Linked DNA regions of Homo sapiens. The protein of the gene in region 1 purifies or fractionates together with the protein of each later gene. This does not show direct contact. Each region holds a gene or a part of one and is shown on either strand. Other genes may lie near its edges. The genes, in order: TOX4 and SERPINA12.

Evidence for each region.
Region 2: the proteins of TOX4 (region 1) and SERPINA12 purify together in Homo sapiens (affinity purification with mass spectrometry; 2 studies listed by BioGRID and IntAct, with this or other methods). This does not show direct contact.

The regions. Positions count from the first base shown.
Region 1 is NC_000014.9:21,490,406-21,494,427, forward strand, and holds part of TOX4 (TOX high mobility group box family member 4), read left to right. Parts: intron 1-1,890; coding exon 1,891-1,971; intron 1,972-2,102; coding exon 2,103-2,852; intron 2,853-4,022. UniProt on the Homo sapiens protein: Transcription factor that modulates cell fate reprogramming from the somatic state to the pluripotent and neuronal fate. In liver, controls the expression of hormone-regulated gluconeogenic genes such as G6PC1 and PCK1.
Region 2 is NC_000014.9:94,502,970-94,506,469, forward strand, and holds part of SERPINA12 (serpin A12 precursor), read right to left. Parts: intron 1,254-3,500; exon of another isoform or gene 1,064-1,253; intron 1-1,063. UniProt on the Homo sapiens protein: Adipokine that modulates insulin action by specifically inhibiting its target protease KLK7 in white adipose tissues.

The DNA.
Region 1 (4,022 bases):
CAGAGGTTGCGGTGAGCCGAGATCATGCCATTGCACTCCAGCCTGGGCAACAAGAGTGAAACTCCATCTCAAAAAATAATAATAATTGTTACAGAAGTACTGCATCTTTACAATAACTCTCAAAAATAGCTACCATTTCCCGCTTTTAAGGTGGAAACTGGAGCCCACTGCCCAGTTAAGGTCATATAACATTTAAGTGGTAAAGTTGAGACACAATCCAGGTTCTTTAACTCTTCCCATGTACTTTCCACTAATAATGTCTCCTATAATTCCTCATGTAGTGTCCTTCTGTTCAATTTTTAGATATTTAACTTTTCTAAGTCTCATTTTTTCCCCCATTTATAAAATTAGGCTATTACTTGATAAGCTGCATGCTGTGGCTAACTCTCAAATCCACTACCAAGTTTGGATTTAGAATTACTTGTTTGTTTGTTTTTGAGATGGAATTTCGCTCCTGTTACCCAGGCTGCAGTGCAGTGGTGCAATCTCAGCTTACTGCAACTTCCACCTCCTGGGTTCAAGTGATTCTCCTGCCTCAGCCTCCCAAGTAGCTGGGATTACCGGCATGTGCCGCCACACCCAGCTAATGTTGTATTTTTAGTAGAGACAGGGTTTCACCGTGTTGGTCAGGCTGGTGCCAAACTCCTGACCTCAGGTGATCCGCCTGCCTTGTCCTCCCAACGTGCTGGGATTACAGGTGTGAGCCACCGCACCTGGCCTATTTTTTTTCTTTCTTTTTCTTTTTTGGATTTAGAGTTTAAAAACTTTTTAGAGCTAGCCCAGATTCAAAGGAGGGGGAAATAGGCTTCAGCTCTTGAAGGGAGAAAGGTCATATGGGAGGAGTTGTTGTGGCCATCTTTGCAAACAATTTACCACATTCCATAAGGGAAAATATACTGGTTAGACACAGTCCCAGGCTAAGACACAGTTTTTGGATTAGGGTTTATTTTGTATTTATTTATTTATTTTTTTGAGACAGAGTCTCACTGTGTCGCCCAGGCTGGAGTGCAGTAGCACAATCTTGGTTGACTGCAAGCTCTATCTCCCAGGTTCACGCCATTCTCCTGCCTCAGCCTCCTGAGTAGCTGGACTATAGGCGCCCATCACCACGCCGGGCTAGTTTTGTTTTTGTTTTTTTTAGTAGAGATCGGGTTTCACCAGGTTAGCCAGGATGGTCTCAATCTCCTGACCTCGTGATCTGGCCACCTTGGCCTCCCAAAGTGCTGGGATTACAGGCGTGAGCCACCGCACCTGGCAGATTAGGGTTTATTTTTGTTACAGAAGTGAGCATGGGTTGATGTTTGCCTTAAATGTAGCTATTCTCGGCCAGGCGTGGTGGCTCACGCCTGTAATCCCAGCACTTTGGGAGGCAGAGGCAGGCGGATCACAAGGTCAGGAGATCGAGACCATCCTGGCTAACACAGCGAAACCCCATCTCTACTAAAAATACAAAAAATTAGCCGGGCGTGGTGGCGGGTGCCTATAGTCCCAGCTACTCAGGAGGCTGAAGCAGGAGAATGGCATGAACCTGGGAGGCAGAGCTTGCAATGAGCCAAGATCACGCCACTGCACTCGAGCCTGGGCGAGAGAGCACGACTCTGTCTCAAAAAAAATTTAAAAAAAATAAAATAAATGTAGCAAAATAAAATAAATGTAGCTATTCTTGCCAGACTCCTGTCGATTGGTTGTCTTTCAGAGGTATGCTCAGTGGAGTGAGTCTGCCATGGAGGTTGTCTTGACTGTTAGCTTTCAGAATTGAATTCACTGATAGAGGTTGTCAGTGATTAGACTAAGATGAATTGTCATTCATTGATAAATAATACAGAACTATCAGTCTTTCCTAAGAGTATGGGGAGTTTTGTTTTTTTTTTTAAAGTCTCTTTTTTGCAGGTATATAAGAGGAAAACTGAGGCTGCCAAGAAAGAGTATCTGAAGGCACTGGCTGCTTACAAAGACAACCAGGAGTGTCAGGTAAGAGGGATAGGATAGAATGAATATTTAAACCAGTAAGAAGTTTTTTGGAAGTGTTTGTTAGCAGTTTTAAGAAGTAAATACCACCAAGTGATTGATTAATTGATAGATTGATTTATGTCTTCTTTTAGGCCACTGTGGAAACAGTGGAATTGGATCCAGCACCACCATCACAAACTCCTTCTCCACCTCCTATGGCTACTGTTGACCCAGCATCTCCAGCACCAGCTTCAATAGAGCCCCCTGCCCTGTCCCCATCCATTGTTGTTAACTCCACCCTTTCATCCTATGTGGCAAACCAGGCATCTTCTGGAGCTGGGGGTCAGCCCAATATCACCAAGTTGATTATTACCAAACAAATGTTGCCCTCTTCTATTACTATGTCTCAAGGAGGGATGGTTACTGTTATCCCAGCCACAGTGGTGACCTCCCGGGGGCTCCAACTAGGCCAAACCAGTACAGCTACTATCCAGCCCAGTCAACAAGCCCAGATTGTCACTCGGTCAGTGTTGCAGGCAGCAGCAGCTGCTGCTGCTGCTGCTTCTATGCAACTGCCTCCACCCCGACTACAGCCCCCTCCATTACAACAGATGCCACAGCCCCCGACTCAGCAGCAAGTTACCATTCTGCAGCAGCCTCCTCCACTCCAGGCCATGCAACAGCCTCCACCTCAGAAAGTTCGAATCAATTTACAGCAACAGCCTCCTCCTCTGCAGATCAAGAGTGTGCCTCTACCCACTTTGAAAATGCAGACTACCTTAGTCCCACCAACTGTGGAAAGTAGTCCTGAGCGGCCTATGAACAACAGCCCTGAGGCCCATACAGTGGAGGCACCTTCTCCTGAGACTATCTGTGAGATGATCACAGATGTAGTTCCTGAGGTGAGCCTTTGTTTTTAAGTCTTTAGTCTAGTGGAAATGTATAAAAATGTTTTTGGTTGACCCAATAACAGTGGGGGTTGCTACTAGCATTTAATGCCCAGCAACCAGGAGCACAAAACATCCTGCAGATGGGAGTTCCTTGCAGCAGTTGACTTCTCTTACCCAAGGTACTCATACTGTTTTTTTTTTGTTTGTTTGTTTTTGAGATGGAGTTTCACTCATTGCCCAGGCTGGAGTGCAATGGTGCGATCTCGGCTCACTGCAACCTCTACCTCCTGGGTTCAAGAGATTCTCCTGCCTCAGCCTCCCGAGTGGCTGGGATTACAGGCATGTGCCACCATGTCCGGCTAATTTTGTATTTTTAGTAGAGACGGTTTCTCCATGTTGGTCAGGCTGGTCTCGAACTCCTGATCTCAGGTGATCTGCCTGCCTCGGCCTCCCAAAGTGCTGGGATTACAGGTGTGAGCCACTGCACCCGCCCTGTTTTGTTTTGTTTTGTTTTGTTTTTCTTGAGACGGAGTCTCGCTCTGTTGCCTGGGCTGGAGTGCAGTGGTGTAATCTTGGCTCACTGCAATCTCCACCTCCTAGTTCAAGTGATTCTCCTGCCTCAGCCTCCCGAGTAGCTGGGATTACAGGCGCCCACCACTACACCCAGCTAATTTTTTGTATTTTTATTAGAGACAGAGTTTCACCATGTTCATTGGGCTGGTCTTGAACTCCTGACCTCGTGATTCGCCCGCTTCGGCCTCCCAGAGTGCAGGGATTACAGGCGTGAGCCACCGTGTGCCCCATAGTGTTTTTAGTGAGATACATTAAGACAGTCTTCTGCCCCAGACCACTCCTTAACTAAGCAGAGGTCACTAGTTCAACTGGACAGGATATAGCCTAAACAGTTATTATTCAGAGTTGTTACCCAAGGATCCTAAACTTTGGACATGCAAAGCTTTTCATTTCTCCTAGGTCTTAAGTTCCTTAGCTTGATGTTTTAAATGTGTGTGGGGCAGGGGGTATAGGCAGAAAAATTTAATTGGTTCATACCGTTATTTTTTAAAACAGACATAAATATGGCCAGGTGTGGTGGCTCACGCCTGTAATCCCAGCACTTTGGGAGGCCAAGGCAGGTGGATCACCTGAGGTCAGGAGTTCAGGACCAGCCTGGCCAACATGGTG
Region 2 (3,500 bases), about 73 Mb from region 1:
TAAACCCGGTGCCCTTCTTTGGGCTGAGAAATCTGAGGAATCCTTGCTAAAGGTGTGCCTTGGCCTCCCAACAGAAGACCCTCACAAGAGCCCTGCACTTGAAGAGCCACTTCAGGCCTGCTCTGTGGCTCACCTGTTTTAAAGGACTGATATTGCTTTAAGAAGAAATCACTCTATATACATCAGAAATTAAATTATTATTTTTAAAAGCACATTTAGAACTAAGTGGTGGTAAGACATATCTTCTCTCCCCTGTTAGAAGTAAGAGAAGCCCCATAAACAAACTCTGATGACCACAGCAATATACTTTCTCCTCCTTTCTGGAAAACAAAGAGTGGAGAACATGTCCCCATTCCACTTGTTAATTTGCCCTGTAGATTTCTGCCTTCATTCCTTAAGAAATATGTTTGAGTCCTCACTCTGTGTCAGGCACTGGGGCACTAGAGCAATGCCCAGGAAATGGTCCATATTGATGCTGCAGACTGACTCTCAGCCCAACAAGCCCCACAGCCTTCTCCAAACCCTCAAGAACCTTCCAGCTGTTTGCCTGACCTGGTCCTCCTCCCCTTCCGTGACTGCATTCTAGGAGGAGGGGTATGTGGGTTGGAAAGGCTGAGAGATCATTGACTTCAGGACTATCTGTGCCATAAAGAGGGAAATGAGGCCCAGAGTGGACAAAGGAAGAGATTGTGGTTGCAGTGTGCATCAGTGGTGAAGGCAATTCTGCAGAAATGCATTGAACAGGCTGCTTCGCCTCACTTTCTCCATGAACCAGTGAGTTGATGGATCCAGCCTCTATCCTCAGAGAGAGATAAAGATTCACAAACAGCTCACACACAAGGATGACTGTGGCCAGCATCATGCAGCAGGGGTGGACCCAAATTGGAGGCACCACTTATGTCCCAAGACTTCTCCCATCCCCACATTCATGAAGCTTCTCTCTCTAGAAAAGCACTGGGCAGTAGACATCCATAACACTCTGCCAAAGATGTTCAACAAATTCTTCAAGAGGGGTTTACCTGGATTTTGGAGATCCTCTAGAATTTTCCTTTCATACACCCACCTGTGGACAGTGCTACATCCTCCCTCGATCTGAAGCAAGCTTCGTGTGGAATAGACAAGAAGCACCGGATCTTTTGGAAGGGAAGGTCTCATACTCACAGTACATTCAGAAGTCCACTGAGCCAGCCAAATGCATCTGCCTTTCTTGCTTTATTATTTATACTTCCATGGCCTCTTGGAAGAGTAAGGCCAATACAATGAGCTGGCGTGTATGGGCAGGTGATGGAGGCTTTGGAAGCAATGGCCACACCACCTCCCTGGGAGCTCTCCCTGTGGAGGCAGCGGCATGATATCGTACCGGCCACACCCACTGGGCTGTGGCTTCCCTAATGAAGTCCACTAGACACCTTTTGCAACGACTCTATTTCCCAGTTGCTCTCTGGGTATGGAAGCCAGAATAGTCTACAAGTAGATGAGCCTAGAGTCCTAATACTGAATATTCAACCCAAGTATCATCATTGCTGCCCATGGGAACAGGTTGATAACTGGGCTTCTTGGGGTCATTCCCATGTATCCCTCACCATTTTCTTTTGCTATTTTTTCATGTGTTCCAAATTAGCTTAGCTCACATGGAGTCCTTTGGGGAAAAAGTTCGAGGACAGACAAATAGACAACTAAATGCGTAGATTCCGTTAGGAAGAACAGGAATTAAAAATTCACCTCAAAGTTCATGATCATGGAAATTACAAATTGTTTTCCTATTGCACATTTGTTGTGCTGGAGTGGTGAGACTATGGTTGGGTTCTCTTGTGCTGGGGTGATGAGACTATGGCTGAACTCTGTTGTCTCTGCCTCCCCCTTACTTTTCTATATTTTCCAAATTGTCTTTAAAAAACAGATATTACTTTAGGATTAATTTTTCAAAGGCTTAAAATAAAATAAAATAAAATTCTTATCTTCAGTTTTACCACTTGGAGAGAGAAGCATTGAAGATGTCTGGGAACATTCCAAACCCACTGATGCTGGGATGGAAGAGCAATAAGCTCAACATGCCTATCTTCAATTCTGCTTAATCTAATGAGCTCCAGTGAGCAGAAAAAACATTCACATATTTCTTCCCCATTGAGTGGTGTTTCACAGTAGGTCGTATCTGATCGAAACACCTCGGAGGCCTCGGAAGAGCCATGGGTGTTGTTTTCCCTTCCTTTGGGTTGCTGCTTTTAGCAAAGACATGACTCTCATTCCCAGAGCTATTCAGAGCAGGTGACCCAGACAAACCTTCTTGGAAAGAGGAGACACTAGTTCATTCCCAGGCCTGGTTCAGCCACAGACTCTATGCACTCAGGGCCTAGATGAACAAGGACATGGGGATATGGGTTCCAGAGCTGCCCAGATCAGAAACCACCCCTGAAGATGCCCCTGAGCCACCACCTTCCCTCGCCCAGGCAGCAAGGCCTGCCTGCTGGGATGCATGGGTCAAAGACACCATGTGAACGGCGAGATGAGAGACTTCACACTGGCCGGCTCTGGTCACCAAGGGGTTGCAGAGGAGACAGAAGGACAGGCTGAGACCAAGGAGTACAGGTGGTCCTATTGTGACTGTAGAGGCTATAGTGGTGGAAGATCAGAGCCAGTGAGGTGGACACTGACCCAGAATCCAGGTCTGTACATCTGGTTTGGGAGGGAAAACCTGCCCTCTAATGACAGGGTGAGGCCTGTGTGAGTCTGAGGGCCATGCCTCCCTGCCTGCCCCAGACACTCTCTGCTCCAGGGTAAATTTCCACGGGAGACATGCAGGAAGAGGCCAGGGTAGGGATGCCCACTGAGCGACACGGGCAGCACTGGGGATGCCTGAGTTCAGACAGTGCCAGAGGCCAGTAGGCCATGGGCAGAGGGTAGCCACAGGTGGGCTGCCGGCCAGCCAGGCGCTACACCTGGGTTGGGAGTTGCCTGTCCTGCCTGGGGAAAAGAGCCCCGGAGGAGGTGCACGTCTGTGGAGAGCAGTGAAGGATATAGGCATGGGAGGGAGCAGCCCCCTTCACGTGCCCATTAAGGGACCTCAGCCTAGACTTGAGGCTGCCCCGACTGCCTGTAGTTAAGATTCAGGTCCCATGGATTTGTGCCTGGTGTTCATCAGGGGCTAGAAGGATGAAGGAGATTGTCCAGCCTGGGAAGATTATTGTTATAAGTTAATGGGCCTAAGGCACTGGTCGGAGGCTGAGGGGTGGCCTGAATATTTTTTACATTATTGCCATGTGTAGGGGTGAGAGGGGAGCTAGGAATTTCTGGTCCTCATCCTCACTCTTTGGATCTCCCAGATGGAAGAAACATGTTAGTGACCATGCCACACCCTAACTCCAAGAGCTCTGGTCTGATGGGAACACAGAACACAGAGATACAAGTCACACTAGGTAAGGGCCAAGGTAGAGGTAACTCTGGGAGGTGAGAACACACAAGAGGCACCTGATCCTAGCTGGGGTGCTCTGGACTGTGTCATA